Linked DNA regions of Homo sapiens. The protein of the gene in region 2 purifies or fractionates together with the protein of the main gene of each other region. This does not show direct contact. Each region holds a gene or a part of one and is shown on either strand. Other genes may lie near its edges.

The links. The genes of interacting proteins can lie anywhere in the genome.
Region 1: the proteins of KCNA6 (region 2) and KCNAB2 purify together in Homo sapiens (affinity purification with mass spectrometry; 3 studies listed by BioGRID and IntAct, with this or other methods). This does not show direct contact.

What each region holds. Positions count from the first base shown.
Region 1 is NC_000001.11:6,097,888-6,102,903, reverse strand, and holds the end of KCNAB2 (voltage-gated potassium channel subunit beta-2), read right to left. Parts: intron 4,420-5,016; coding exon 4,330-4,419; 3' UTR 1,724-4,329; downstream 1-1,723.
Region 2 is NC_000012.12:4,804,558-4,813,842, reverse strand, and holds KCNA6 (potassium voltage-gated channel subfamily A member 6), read right to left. Parts: upstream 4,510-9,285; 5' UTR 3,802-4,509; coding exon 2,212-3,801; 3' UTR 525-2,211; downstream 1-524. UniProt on the Homo sapiens protein: Voltage-gated potassium channel that mediates transmembrane potassium transport in excitable membranes. Forms tetrameric potassium-selective channels through which potassium ions pass in accordance with their electrochemical gradient.

The sequences.
Region 1 (5,016 bases), on a different chromosome or scaffold from region 2:
CATTGCCCCATGGGCTCAGGTGACTCGGGGTGGAGTGAGCACGTCTGCAGGGCCCTCTCATACACGCCTGAGGCAGAAGCAGCGTCCCCCGTGAAAGCCACCTTCCGAAGCTCCTGCGTTTTTTGCAAACTTGGCTTCCCCCAGGGGCAGGCTGGACTTTCCCTGCCCCCTATGATTGAAGTCCTCCTGCTTTTGGGGGCTGCCTTCCCAGAGTCCCCCGGGTGCTCCCCTGCCGAGGTCAGGAGCTGACCAAGCCTTGGCCCGGTGACACCTGCAGCCCTCACTCCTGTCATCCCAGGACACTTGAGGCCCAAGGAGGTGGAGTGGAGAGTGGGCTCGGGTACATGGGAGCCAGAAGCCAGATGGACTTGGTCAAGTGTCGGTCACTTGGAGCCTCCAGTGTGCGTCAGGGTCTGTGGGCAGGGGACAGGGCGTGGGTGGGGGCCGAGGCTGGCACGCCCCTCTGCCCTCACCGTCTTGGTGACCTGGCCTCGGCCCCTCCCCCAAGTCTCTTCTGTGCAAGGCCCGCCTCGGCCTCGGCAGCTGGTTCCTGTCCTGTTTTCTGTGTCTGAAAGTTTACAGGTTGTGGTGCATCAGCCCAAACTCACTGGCGTTGTGTTTTTTTTTTCTTTAATTTTCAGATTTTTTTTTTAAACAAAGTATTTTTTTAGGTGCGATAACCCAGAAAGGGCCCGTTGGGTGTGTGTGTGTGTCCTGAACTCCTCAAGCAGCGATTGGAGCCCAAGCACCCCTGGAGAGGAAGGGAGGGTCCCCACTGGCCCGTGGGGTCTGAGTTCAGGGGTGTGGAGGGAGCAGACTCCACCGGCCCAGGCCCAGCTAAGAGGGGGCCGACCCCTTTCCCCAGGCACAGCCCCAGGCTGGCAAAGGGAGGGCCCTGGGCTGGGTGCAAGGCGCGCCAGGAGTCCCAGCCAGGGTGGCCCCGGCGGGGGCGGGTCCAGCTTTGGAAGCCAGGCTCCCCTGTGAGCCGTGGCTTGTCTGGTCTTCGCCCACGGGAGGCTGGACAGAGGCTGTAGCCAACACAATCACCTTTACTTTGTACTCTGTGTGTATGTTTTGGTTTTCTGTGTTTTAATAAATCCTTTGGGAAAGGATTTAATCAGAGGCTTTTTCTTTTTAAGATTCAAGATTTAGAATGGGGGTGGGGGCTGGGGCCAGGGAGGAGTGGTGGGGGGTGGGGGCGTGTCCGGAAGCCTTCTCTTGCCTGGGATGGTCATTTCACGGGTGCAGGGGCTCACTGGGAAGGAGGGGAGCCCGAAACAGGGGTGTGCTGGGGTGAGGCCCCTCTCACCTGTACCCCAAACACATACCATGAGAGCTTCCCCAGGCCTGGACCTCTGTCCTTATGAGAACAGCAGCCAGCCAGGTCCCCAGAGGGACAGCAGCCTCCCAGCAAGCAGCTTTGGGCCCTCAGAGTTGGTGAAAGAGAATGTGTGTGTTGGGGGCGGCAGGGGAGGCACGCACCCTCCCTTGGCTGAATCGCTTGGGAGAGATGGGGGACAGGTCTTCTGACCACCCTGTCCCCATTCTCTGTCCCCGCTCTCTCTCCACGGGCCCTTTCCAACCCACCTGCCCTTGGCTGCAGGCTCCGGTTTGGGGGATGCCCCAGGCCCTGCTGCTGGCAGCCTTTTCCTCCCCTCCCGTGTCACCCTGGCCCAGCCCTGACCCTGAGGAAATGAGAGGAGCAAAAAGTCACAGAGACCGATGGGTTTGGGCTTTATTTATTTTGTCATTCCATAAATACGGTGGCTGTGTCGCGGTCTGAGTCTCGTTTGGAAGCTCGAGGCATAGGACAGTCTCTGCCTGGGTAGGGAATGCAGTTAGCTGAGGAACCACGGTAGGTTTAAAAAAAAAGACTCGGGGAGAGAAAAAGCACATTATTTACATGACTGGACAAGGACAGAAGGTGGGAGGAAGCCCCTGTCACTCCTTGGGACCTGGGATCTGAGCACAAAGCTGAGTGGGAAACAGTGGGGGCTCCGAAGCGTCCAGCAGGGCCAGCGCCCTCCTTTCTAGACCCCGACTGCCCTTGGTCTTCTGCCCTTTCTTGGATGGTCCTACCCAATACCTCCTCCCGAGAGGGGGGACCTGGCCCTAGGAGGCAGAGCCCCCTCACATCCTCCCTGTAGATGGGTGTGGAGCAAGCAGGACATCCAGGAACCAGGTCGTGGAAAGAGCTGCGCCAGAGGCTGACTGCATCCTGACACTGGGGCCTGGCCTCTCTGTGTTTGGCAAACCCGCAGCCTTTGGGGGCTCAGCTGCCCCAGGTGTGCCTCGCATTAAGCAGCAGTGCCCACCCTGGGCACCACCTCGCGCTGGTCCCTCTTCCAACAGTGGGTGGGGCTGGGTGGCAGTGGGGATGGGGCCAGCCACCCTCCCTGATGGCGAGGGTGGGCCACCTGCCCTCTGGCACCATTGGCCACTGCAGGACCCTGTCCGGGAAGGAAGCAGGCGACCCCCACCTGGGCCCAGGGCCATAGGCTGGGACCTCCGTTGGGAAGGGACTTCCCCACCCCACACTCACAGGGCTGCTTCTGGTGAAGCAGGCAGCAGGACTGAGTGGAGACCCCCGGGACTTGGTCTATGAGGAGGGGCAAGGGTTCTAGGCGCCAGGGGCAGCATGAAGGGGGGTCGGTAATAGCAGAAGCTGATCCCCCTCCTCCCCTCGCCCCAGCCTCTCCCCGCTGGCCTTTCTGACTTTCACAGTTTCCCAGGCCTTGGCCCGGCCAGGACTGGACAGCAGGCTCCCGCAGGACGGCAGGGTGGAGCCTTCTGGAATAGTGGCTCCTCCAGGGGCAAAGCGGGAACAGAGGTGCCTGCACTGAGGGTGCGCCCTGGGGGCAGGAGACACAGGCTTCCCTATGGAGCTAGCTGGCGAGGGGTGGGGGTGGCTTCAGTGGAGCCCTGCCCCGCGTGGTCTGCAAAGCCTGGGTACTGCTTGGGACACAGGCCTGGGCCTGTAGGTGGCACCCCGCACCTGCAGACTTACTGGCATCCCTTGCCCTCCGGCCCAAGCTGCACGGGGGCGTCACTCTGGCCTGTCCTGCCCTCTCTCCCCTCTGCCCAGCCTGTCCCAGGTGTCAGGCAGTGGGAGGGGCTAACCAGCCCTGCCCGTCTTTCCAGGGAGAGGTTCCCTGAGGTCTTTTCCTACATTGTGGGGGTGCTGTGGGGGTGCAGCCCCCAAGTCATGGGCACAGAAAACCCCAAAGACCCTTCCTTACTGAAAGGGTCCAAGCATGCGCTCCACAAAACCCAAGCCCACCAGCTCGGTGCAGAGCAGCGGCCTGGGCTGGCGGGCGGCTTTAGAGAAAGTCTACAGGGGCCGAGAGGAGTGCATCCTTGTGCACAGGGCCGGCCCCTGCTGCCACTTGCCGTGGTGTGGCCAGCAGCCACCGTGCAGCTAGGAGCACATGACCACAGGGCCTTCCGGGGCCAGGACAGAGGGGTGGCCAGACAGAGGGGCCTGCCCCACTGGGACCCCTCCCAAGCGCTCCGGGCCTCACTGGCATGAGGCTCATCATTGGTGTGTAGGAGGAAGACGGTGGGAGGCTGAGCTAGAAATCACACCGCTACGCTTTTTGTGGCTCCCAAACTGCAGAGTCAATCCCCCTGGGGTCCCTGCCCCTGCCAGCAAGGGTGGGGGTGGGTGGGGGTCAAGGGCCAGCTCGAGCTTGGTAGGCATGGCCCCTGCCGGGACCCAGTGGGGCAGGTTGGAGCAGAAAAGGATGGGAGAGGAATCTGTGGTCAGGCCCCAGATTCCTGGAGCCCTTGGAAAGTGGGAGGTGGAGGAAGACCCCCAGTGGGGAGGCCCTGCCCCAGCAACCAAGGCCCTGGCAGAAGGGGCCCCTCGATGGGCCAGACCCCTTTCCCCTCTCCCCCTACACCAAGTGGGGATTCTCAGCAGAGGAGAGGCTGGCCCTGCCCGCCCCAAGGACCCAACCAGGCCTTGGCCTGGCCTTGACTTTGGGAACCTTGGAAATCTTTGGGCCTTGACTTTGGGAATCTTGGCTGTGGCTGGGAGAAAGCTGGGTGGTCTTGGAGGATGAGCAGAGGTGACAGGCTTGGGTGGGACCGTTTGAACATCCTTCCTAACCAGTGCCTTCCCCGGCACAGACTGGACTTCGACATTGTCCGGCGAAGCAGTGGGTGGTGTCTGGCAGCGACTTGGGAGATCATTTCCCGATGACATCACAGTGTGGTGTTTTCTCTTGGATGCAAACCACACTCTTCACTTGGCTTCAAAACAGCTTAAGCGAGCGAACAGAGACTAGGAGGGAACGGAAACTGTCCGAGCAGGCGGGCGGGGGCGGCTTAGGATCTGTAGTCCTTTTTGCTGTAGGGTTTATTGCCCAAAATACTATCAATCTCGTGGATAATGGAAGATGACAGTTTCGGAAGGACCTGCGTGCAAGAACAACAACAAATCAGAATCCCACCAACAAGACGGGCCTGGCCTGGGGAGGAGGTGGGGCCAGGCTCTTCCAGATGGTCGGCTGGCCAGGCCCGGGTTGCCCCATCACATCTGGGCTCCATCTGAGGCAGATGGAGGCCACGCTGCTTTTGTGTTTCAGAAGGTTTGGGGCAGAGAGGAAGCATGCCTGGGTCTGTGCACTCCCTCTCAAATGTCAAGGTGCCCTAGAACCTTCCTGAAGGGTGGTGGCAGCAGTGACATAAAATGGAAACTCCAGGCCAAATGCTGGACTTCCATGTCCGTGACTGCTTTTTCCAGCTGCGCCTGCCTCAGCATACAGCACCGCCACCCTTCCGGGTGACACACCCGGGGACCGACTTCCACCTCGCCTTCTCACCCCCACATCCAGTTTGTCAGCCAGTCCCGGGGGCCCCACCTTCCCAAACATCCAGGATCCAACCACCACTCCCGTCTCGGACCCGCAGCTGCCACTTCCCACCAGGGCTCTCTGCTTCGACTTTTGCTTCCCAAAGCCTCCCCGATGGAGCAGCCGGAGAGCAGCCTCCCTTTCCAGGCTGAGCTGCAGC
Region 2 (9,285 bases):
ACATATACAGAGATACATGCATACAGGTCTCAACTTTTACCCTCGGCTGGGAGCTTCCCTTCTGCCTCTGGAATGGGCTTTTCTCTTCTTTCCCCAGATAGCCAGCAGCAATGGGAGAGATTTGGAAAACTAGCACTTTCTGACCTCAGAGCAGGTTTTTGCATCATAAACATCTCTATCTTCTACTGTGTTTCAGGTTTGGAGAAGCCAAGCCCCCAGTCAAGGTGACCTCCAGCCATGGAAGGATCCCCCTGAACATATCTAAAGAGAACTCTCCTTTCTGAAGGGTAAGAAGAAAGGCTGAGGGGCTCAGTCCAAGAGGCCAAGGAGGGATTTAGGGAGCCAATGGTCCATAATGGCCTATTCTCAGGCTTTGGATCCAAAGCAGGAACTCTGGGGGAAGGCCTTGCCTATGGGGGTATGGGGATAACTAAAAATCAAATCCATGACTAAGATTCACACATTTGCATAGCAATGTCCCCAGCTTCCCAGACATTCCCCATGAGGTAGGGAGGGGAAGACAGTAATGTTCCCATTTAATGGGTGGGTAAACTGAGGCACAAAGAGTGACTGTGGACCCAAGTTACCCTGTAAAGTTATGGCAAGATCGAGATTTAGAGCTGGCAGTCACAGAAGCCACACTGCCTCTCAAGCAAACCCTCATAAGGCTGTCCTCTCGTAAGTTGCTCTTCGAGAGAATAATTTTTAAAAAAAAAATTATCATCAAAGAGTCTGAAAGCATAGATATAAAATTAAAAACATGTTAACAGTCCTTTCAGTTTCAGAACTGCACCCAAAAGATCTCAGAACAGTACATCACAGTTTATCAAAGGCAAAAAACAAATGGCAATGTTACTGAGAAACAAAAGGGGAGGTGGGCAGGTGGATAGATGGCAGTGGTCTCACAATGGAAGAAAATGGCTAAATCAAGTGGGAACGCCACCAAGTCACCTTACCAGTGAGAGCAGGTCAAATGCAGCTCCAAGGGGCAGAGCAGGCAAGTGTTTGCTTGACTCAGCAAAAAAGCCTCTTAGAGTGAGGCTGTTGGCAAAGGAATAATGCTTGTTCCTTATTCTAAACCACATATTTCATGCCCATAAAATGGGAAGAAACCCATGCTGCCATCCAATGTGTGCTTTTACCTGTCTAGGGCTTTAAGCTGGAGTTTGCCTGAGGAAGCCTTCAACAGCAATCCTAAATCAAACTCCCAGGAAGCAAGGTAGAGGGCCAGAGAAAATGTGGGGAAAATGAAGGAGAAAAGGCTGCCATCTGCAACACGATTCCTCTGCCCCTTTGAGAAAACAGTATCTGTTTAAGTGGCACCTTGCTTCAGACTGTGGTCAAGCCAGTTGCTTGACTCTGCTCAGACATTCCTCCTGGCTCTGTGGTTCCCTTTCTCCAGTTCTTCTGCTCAGGAAGGCACTTGCACAAAGAGTATTTGGCTCTGAGAAGGAACCTTCCTGGAAGCTGGAGAGTCAGGGGATCAGAGTGGGGAGAACTAAATGTAGACCGAACACCAGTGCCTCTTGTGCTGGGGCACACTTTGAAAAATCCATTGGCCTCTTTGGTCCTGGACTAACCCCGTGTCCTCCAAGTGGTAAAGTTTGATTGTATTCTCTAATTCCATCCAAGTTTAGAAACGAATAACCTATTTTGAGGCTATGCAAATAAAGACTCTACCAAGGGTCATCTGCAGGAGGACCAGTGATTGTTACAGGGCACTGGAATAACAGCAAGTTGAGTACTGCTTCTGTCCTCCAGCTTCTTCCAGTTACCAAGTAGCCTGAAGCTAGGAAACGCACATGACCCAAAGCAAAGAACACTAAGGAGGGAGCGAAGACTCAGATAGGGCTGGTTTCCATCCTGTTGACATTGCTGTTCCTTGAGATATTGTAAGTCCCAGACATGAAAAATCAGTCTTGAGGGAAGGTCAGACATAAATGTATATCTCATTCATATGACAGAAGCTGGGCATGATTGGGTGGCACCGCTGGAATTTCAAAAATGTCACTTAGATGGATTAACCTTGAATGCTGCAGGGATTAAGCAACAAGGTTGATAGTCCAGGTATTTGGTCCTGGATGCCAGGTAGTGGGTGTAGGGGAGAGAGTCAAGAAGTCAACTGAAGCTAGAGTGAGTAGTGGAAATGAGAAGGAAGCCTAAGAGACTGTTAGCTCAGTGCTCCCCTCCTGCAGGCCCTGCCTGCATGGGTCAGACCTCCGTGAGCATTCTTTTCTCTGCATAGGCCCGATGTGGTGTAGGAAGGTAGCTGGGTCTCCGTTCCCGGTTAGCCTCGGGGAAGTCAGGCTTGCCAAGTCCGTTGTCAGTTGCCCTCAGGTCCGGCGCAGGCTGCCCACAAGTGACGTGGGTATACTGGCCTTGCTCCTCCTGCTCCGTCTCCCGGTGGTAGAAGTAGTTGAAGTTGGAGACGATGACGGGCACAGGCAGGGCAATGGTGAGGACCCCAGCGATGGCACACAGCGAGCCCACGATCTTTCCCCCCACAGTCATGGGGTACATGTCCCCGTAACCTACCGTGGTCATTGTAACCACTGCCCACCAGAAGGCATCCGGGATGCTGGGAAAAAGCGAATCGTCATCGTCAGCCTCTGCGAAGTAGACGGCACTGGAGAAGAGGATGACCCCGATGAAGAGGAAGAAGATGAGCAGCCCCAGCTCCCTCATGGAGGCCTGCAAGGTCTTGCCCAGGATCTGCAGCCCCTTGGAGTGGCGGGAGAGCTTGAAGATGCGGAACACCCGGACCAGGCGGATGACTCGGAGGATGGCCAGGGACATGGCCTGCTGCCCATTCTGGCCGCCTCCTCCACTGGCTGGTTGCTGCTCCTGCTGCTGCACCAGCTCAGTGCCCAGGGTGATGAAGTAGGGGAAGATAGCCACCAAGTCAATGATGTTCATGATGTTCCGGAAGAAGGCCGGCTTGCTAGGGCAGGCGGAGAAGCGCACCAGGAGCTCAAAAGTGAACCAGACAATGCACAGCGTCTCCACCAGAAAGAAGGGGTCTGTAAAGAAGGAGCCCCCAAGAGTACTGAGTGAGGAGGAGCCCCCGGTCCCCATTTCCCCAGGGGTGATGCCATGATGAAATGTGTAGGAATCGTCTTCATCCTCCTCTTCCTCCTGACTCCCCCTGGAAACTGGGGAGACTCGACTCACACCACCATTGTTTCCACCTCGACCATCTACACGGAACTGGGGTAAGGTCTCCAGGCAAAAGATGACTATGGAGATGAGAATGACCAACACGGAGACGATGGCGATGCCCCTGGCCGGCCCAGAGCTCTCTGGGTACTCAAAGAGCAGCCACACCTGGCGCTGGAAGGGCTGGGAGGGCAGCGGCTTCTCGTCCTCGCCACCTTCGGGCAGGCAGCCCTCGTCCTCCCGGAAGGCCGCCAGGGCCTCGTCCCCCAGCTGGTAGAAGCGGATCTCCTCCAGGAAAATGTCCAGGGGCACGTTGACCGGCCTCCGCAGGCGGCCCCCAGACTGGTAGTAGTAGAGGATGGCGTCGAAGCTGGGCCGGTTGCGGTCGAAGAAGTACTCGTTCCTCAGGGGGTCGAAGAAGCGGACTCGCCGGCCAGGGTCTCCGAGCAGCGTGTCCGGAAACAGCGACAGGGTGCGCAATTGTGTCTCAAAGCGCAGCCCGGAGATATTGATCACCAGCCGCTCGCTACTACAGCAGCCCCCGCCCCCGCCGGCCTCCGGGAAGTCTCCCGCATCCTGTTGCTCTCCCTCCGGCCCACGGACCTCCCCCGGCGCCGCCAGCGTAAGGGATTTCTCCGATCTCATGCCCCCTCGGAGGTGCGCTCCCCGCCACTAGGACGGCGCCCACGACACAATCTCTGGAGCGCGGCACCCGCTCCCCAGCTCCCGGCTGCGCCCTCTTTAGGGTGGGGCCCGCGCTCCTCCCGGTTCGCGGTCTGACCTGGCCGTTGGGTCCGTGAGCCCTAAAGCCCTGGTCCCTGCAAGGCTGGGTCTGGGGAGGTGACCTGGGCGCTGGGGATTTGGTTCTGCGCTTCCCGTTACCCGCGCCCGGGTGCTAGAGCTTACTGGGATGCCCGGAACCGCACACAGGCGCGTGTGAAATTGGCTGCCCGAAAAGACGCGTGGCTTCGCCCCCAGCGGTGCCTGAGACCCGGCTCCCGGACGCAGAGGTCCGCCCTCCAGCCGGGCTAGCTCTTCCCAGTTCCCACTGCGCTCCTCCAGCCGCTCCGGACCCCCGGCTGCCGCTGGTACCGAAGCGCCAGATGCGCCTCCCTCCGGCTCGGCAAAGACTCCTGGCGGGGCTCGGCCTCCGCCCTGCGTCCACCGCGGGGCTGGGTCCGGCCAAGGTCGCGGTTCCGGCCGCCACAGCCGCCACCTCCTCCCTAGGAGCCGCGCCGCAGGCCTCGCAGAGGGCCCGGGGCTGCCCCGGCGCCCGAGCGCGGGGACCCACCTCCCCACGGCTCAAGGCTTCGCTGCCGCCGCCGCAGCTGCAGCGGCTCGGCTCTCCGCTCTGCCCTTCCTTCCCAACACACACTCTCCAAGTGACGTGGCAGGCCCCGCCTGCTGCCCCCTCCCACCCCACTCCCACATCACACCCCTCGCCCAGCCAGGGGCTGCCGCGAGCCAGGGCGCCATGGAAATAGACGCACACTTGCCTCACCAGTAAGCTTTCCCGCGCTCTCCTGGCACGCCTCTCGCTTTCACACGTTCACATTCGCGCCCCCCTCCACAAGCGCCGGCACCCTAATACCACACCCCCTCCACCCCCGCAGTCGGCTCTTCTCATTTCAATTTACCGAGTTGACCTGCGCAGTGTATTTCATCAATAAGAAGACACACCCCGCCCCACCACACAATACGGAGCACTGTGCATCCACTCATACAGAAATCTAAAGAAAACATTAAATCATACATTCTTCTGTCTTCAGGAAGACCCGTTTGCCAACCTCTCCAATATCTACAGGAAAAAAAAAATAGAGAAAGTATTTTTGAGATGCCTTGAGAGCTTCCGATTTAAATTCCAATATAATTCTCCGTCTACCTTTGCAAGCCTGGGAGGGCGGGGCTGCAACTCTCCCAGAATTGCAAAGGGATGGTAGAGAAAGGGTGGCAAGTCAATCAATGCCTTTCCCATCAGAAGATTTCCAGGGGAGTCCTGAGAGCCTGAGGCAACAACCCCAGTGAGGAAGGACCCAGAAGATGGAAGCACCTCAGAGATACCTCAGCCCAGGGCACAGTGCACCCTGGGGATCCTTTGCTCCCAACCACCCCGAAGGATGCATCTGGAATTTCTGCTTATTGGGTGACCAAAAAAAGGGAGAAGAGGGTGAGTGGAAAAGGGGTATGTAAGAGTGTTGATTGAAAAAATAATAGCTACATTTACTGGGCATTGAATATGTGCCAGCCACATTCTAGGTGCTTTCCCAGAAAGATGTCCTCTCCTTGTAGGCCATGTTACAACAAAGACCCCTTTGGCAGTACTGGAGTAGGGCAAAGTTTGTTGTTAGGGACCAGCTGACTCTTCCCTAACTCTCCAGCAAGAAGGTGATAAGAATGGTTTTCCATCCATTTCTGTCTTTCTTCACGAGACCAGACAAGTTGGGGTCTGGTAGAGGAAGACTCAACTGATCTTTTCAGACTGACACTTCCAGGTAGGGTTGACATTTGCTTCTCTGTGCCTCAGTTTCCTCTTTTCTGGCTGGCTGTAGCCAAAATGAATTGGCTAACAACTACAAAGTGTTTTTGTGTAGCTTCTGGTGCATATTAGATCATTAGTATGCATTCATTGAGGTTAATGATGAGAATGACACATAAAGGTGCTCTCAAACCACAGGATGCATCTGAGAGTTCTTTGTATTGCACGGAGTATTTTAAAACCACAGTGGTTCTCAGCAGCATTCACTCTCAGAGAGTTGGAGGAAGGAGAGAACCAAGGCTCCTGGATGTGTCGGGAAGGGATCAGGTGTTGAGTGGGTAAGAAATGTGCTAGTATTAGAACTCACTGCATGCTCATTCTCCAGTCTTGCTCCTCACCAGTTGAGCCAGGCAACAGCCTCTGCTCCCTTTCTGTGCTTGCACAGCTGATTTCTGGCACCAACGCCCTGTGGGCTTTTTTGATCCCCCAGGATAGAAATCAAAAGAGATCACAGCATACAGTAGCAAAGAGAAAGATTTTATGAAAGCTTATGGACATAAGGGACCAAACACCAAGAAAGGAAGTGGGTTGCTCTCCAAAGTCAAGGTGTGGGTTCCCTTTGTGGAGGTCTGCAGTAAGGGGAAGTCAGGGCATGTAGAGGTGAGGTTTTTCGGGCACATGTACGGTGGCTTAAGATGCTGCTTCATACAACATATGTCTCATTAGCATCTTAAATCTCCACCTGTGGGCATGATTTTTAGTACTAAAATAAGGAAAAGTTCATGATGAGGTGAAAGTTAAGCCTAGCTAGGCACGTAGGGCCTCAGAAAGGTCCTTAGTTCTCTAAAGCAAGGGGTTAATTAATTTGTGGTTAATAGCTTCTTGGGCCTTTGATGCTGACTGGCTGGGAGTTACAGCTTGAGTAAAGGGCTTTTGTTCTTTTTTCTCCAAACCACATCACAACAGGAAAGCAGCCAGCTTGCCCATCTCATGCTTGCCTGTCTCATTTCCACTCCTTTCTCTCACCTTGCATGTTTCCGTGAAGGGAGAGAAAGCAAGTACATGGAGTCATCCAGCGGAGTTTTCTCACTTACAGACTATGTAATTAAGCCATTTAGACTCCACACAAAAGTTGCTCTGTTTAAAAAATCTTTTTGAAAGAAAAGAAAAAAAAGGAAACCAACAGCAAATACACTATAGAAGATACTCTTTACCCCCATCCAGTTATCTGTCACTTTACCCTTATCCAGTTATCTGTCATTATTTTCTGAGTCATAAATTGACTAACCCCTGATTCTTTTTGTTTTTGTTTTCAAATTCATAATGAATGATTCATTTGCAGGTTTGTTTTCATCATTGCCATTTTTATTCACGAGACTGTCAACTAGGTCAGTAATTCTTCAAAACCAATCCTGGCAAAGCATGGGAAGGAACCTTCGTTCTGCAGAAGCGTACACACCCTGATAAGGTGTCAAGAACCTCCGTTTGAGTACCCCTCGGGTTAAGCCTGACTGGGCTGCCGGCCACCCTTCAGGCAGAGCTGATGTTCTGTGATGACCTTCACATCAAGCATGAGGTCGTGCCCCAAGAAGGGTTTCACTGTGCCCAGGGAGGTTCCCCTGAGAAGGACAAGCCATTGGCAAATTCATGAATCAGAGTTCTGTTTTTAGTTCTTTTGTGAAATAGACTCATTTCTTAGCTTAAGAAAAACCCTATGCCTAGATCATTCCCCCCAAGCGTATGTTAAGGATGAGTACAATCACACCTTCAGAAATGCCAGTTCCCAGGTGAAGGAAGACACAGCTCCATCCATAAACACTGCCAAGTGGCTTCCAATGGCAGGGGATTTTTCCCCAGCATTCACCAAGCACCAATTTCATGCCAGCACAGATTTTGTTGTTATTTTTTGTTGTTGTATCCAGATTCAGATGTTTGCCATGGTCATAGCAATCATTCATTTATTTAAAAAGTATATATTGAGCAGCTACTGAGTGCCAGCATGGTGCCAGGTGCTGAGGATTTAGCAGTGATCTATACAAAATATCTGCTTTGATAAGCATACATTTTCATGTAATAAATTACATTATAGACAGAAAATTTTAACAGTAGACAATAAGGAAAATAATTCCATATTGCAGTAAATGCCTTGAGGAGGATAAATGGGATGCCATGTCAGAAATGAACTTGGGGACTCAACTTTGCAAGGGTAGCTGGAAAAGTTCCCTCTGAAGAGGTAGTATTTCAACTGACAATCCAAAGAGGAGAATGGAGCCTGGCACGGTGGCTCATGCCTGTAATCCCAGCACTTTGGGAGGCTGAGGCAGGTGGATCACCTGAGGTTAGGAGTTCAAGACCAGTCTGACCAACATGGCAAAACTCTGTCTCTACTAAAAATGCAAAAATTATCTGGGCATGGTGGAGGGCACGTGTAGTCCCAGCTACTTGGGAGGTTGAGGCAGGAGGATCGCTTTAACCTGGGAGGTGGAGGTTGCAGTGAGCCGAGATTGTACCACTGCACTCCAGCCTGGGTGACAGAGGGAGATTCTGTCTCAAAAATAGATAAGAGAATGGGGCCACAGTGCCAAATGCAGGGAAGAGCATTCCAGACTGACAAGTGCAAAAGCCCTGAGCTAGAAAGGTCATGGGTGTTCAAGGTCAAAAAGAAGGCCGTGCGCTGGGAGGAGAATGGGCAAGGGAAAGGGAGGTGCAAGATAAGATTGAAGAATTAGCAAGGGTACCATCTTATAGGGTGAGGTGTTCAGGTTTTATCTTAAGGGCGGTATGAAGCCAATGATGGTTTTCAAGCAGAGGAGAGACGTGATGTGATTTACTTAGAGGCTGGGAGGGGAATGAATTATGAAGAGGTAGAAGAAGAAATAGAAAGACCAGGAAATTGCAGTCGTCTGGGGAAAAGATGATGGTGACTTGGGCCAGAGAAAGGTAGAGTCAGTAGAGATAGAGTGGAGAGGAGGTGAGGAGAACTGAGGAGGTATGTTTAGATGATAGAATCAGCAGGAATTAGTCATCAATAAAACATGAGAAATAAGCAGCCAATGCCAAGCTCAAGCAACTAGGCAGGTAGGTGTCGCCCTTTACTGAGAAAGGGAAGACAAGGGGTTAAACAAGTTGGGATGCGTCAAGACCTCACCTTTAGATGTTTTACATTGGAGAGGGAAATTATACATGCAAATTAAGACATCAAGGAGGCAGTTATTTATTTAGGTCTGGAATATGAAAAAGAAACTTACGATTTATGAATTTAAGACATCTAGAAATATATACATTCATGGCACCAAGGTCTTCTGCAGAAACAGAATATGGACAACGAGGAGAAATGACCAGGACCAAGTCCTTCACAGCAGTCTTCAATCTACCGGTCAAGGTCAGGAGGAAGGGCAGCCAGCATAGGAGGCTGAGGGGTTGTAGGTGAAGTCAAAGGAAAGCCAAGAGATGGAGAGCTCCTGGAAACCAACAACCAGGACTAGACCCCAGGGGCCCCATCCTCCTGGGCCCACGCTGGCCTTCCAGTGGAACACATGATCTGCAACAGGTCAGGAGTACGTGGGGGGCATCCATGGGAAGAACCACCTAAGAATGGACGTATGTGCCCACAAGATGAGCACAGATAATGTGAAGCATTGTGTGATAACCAT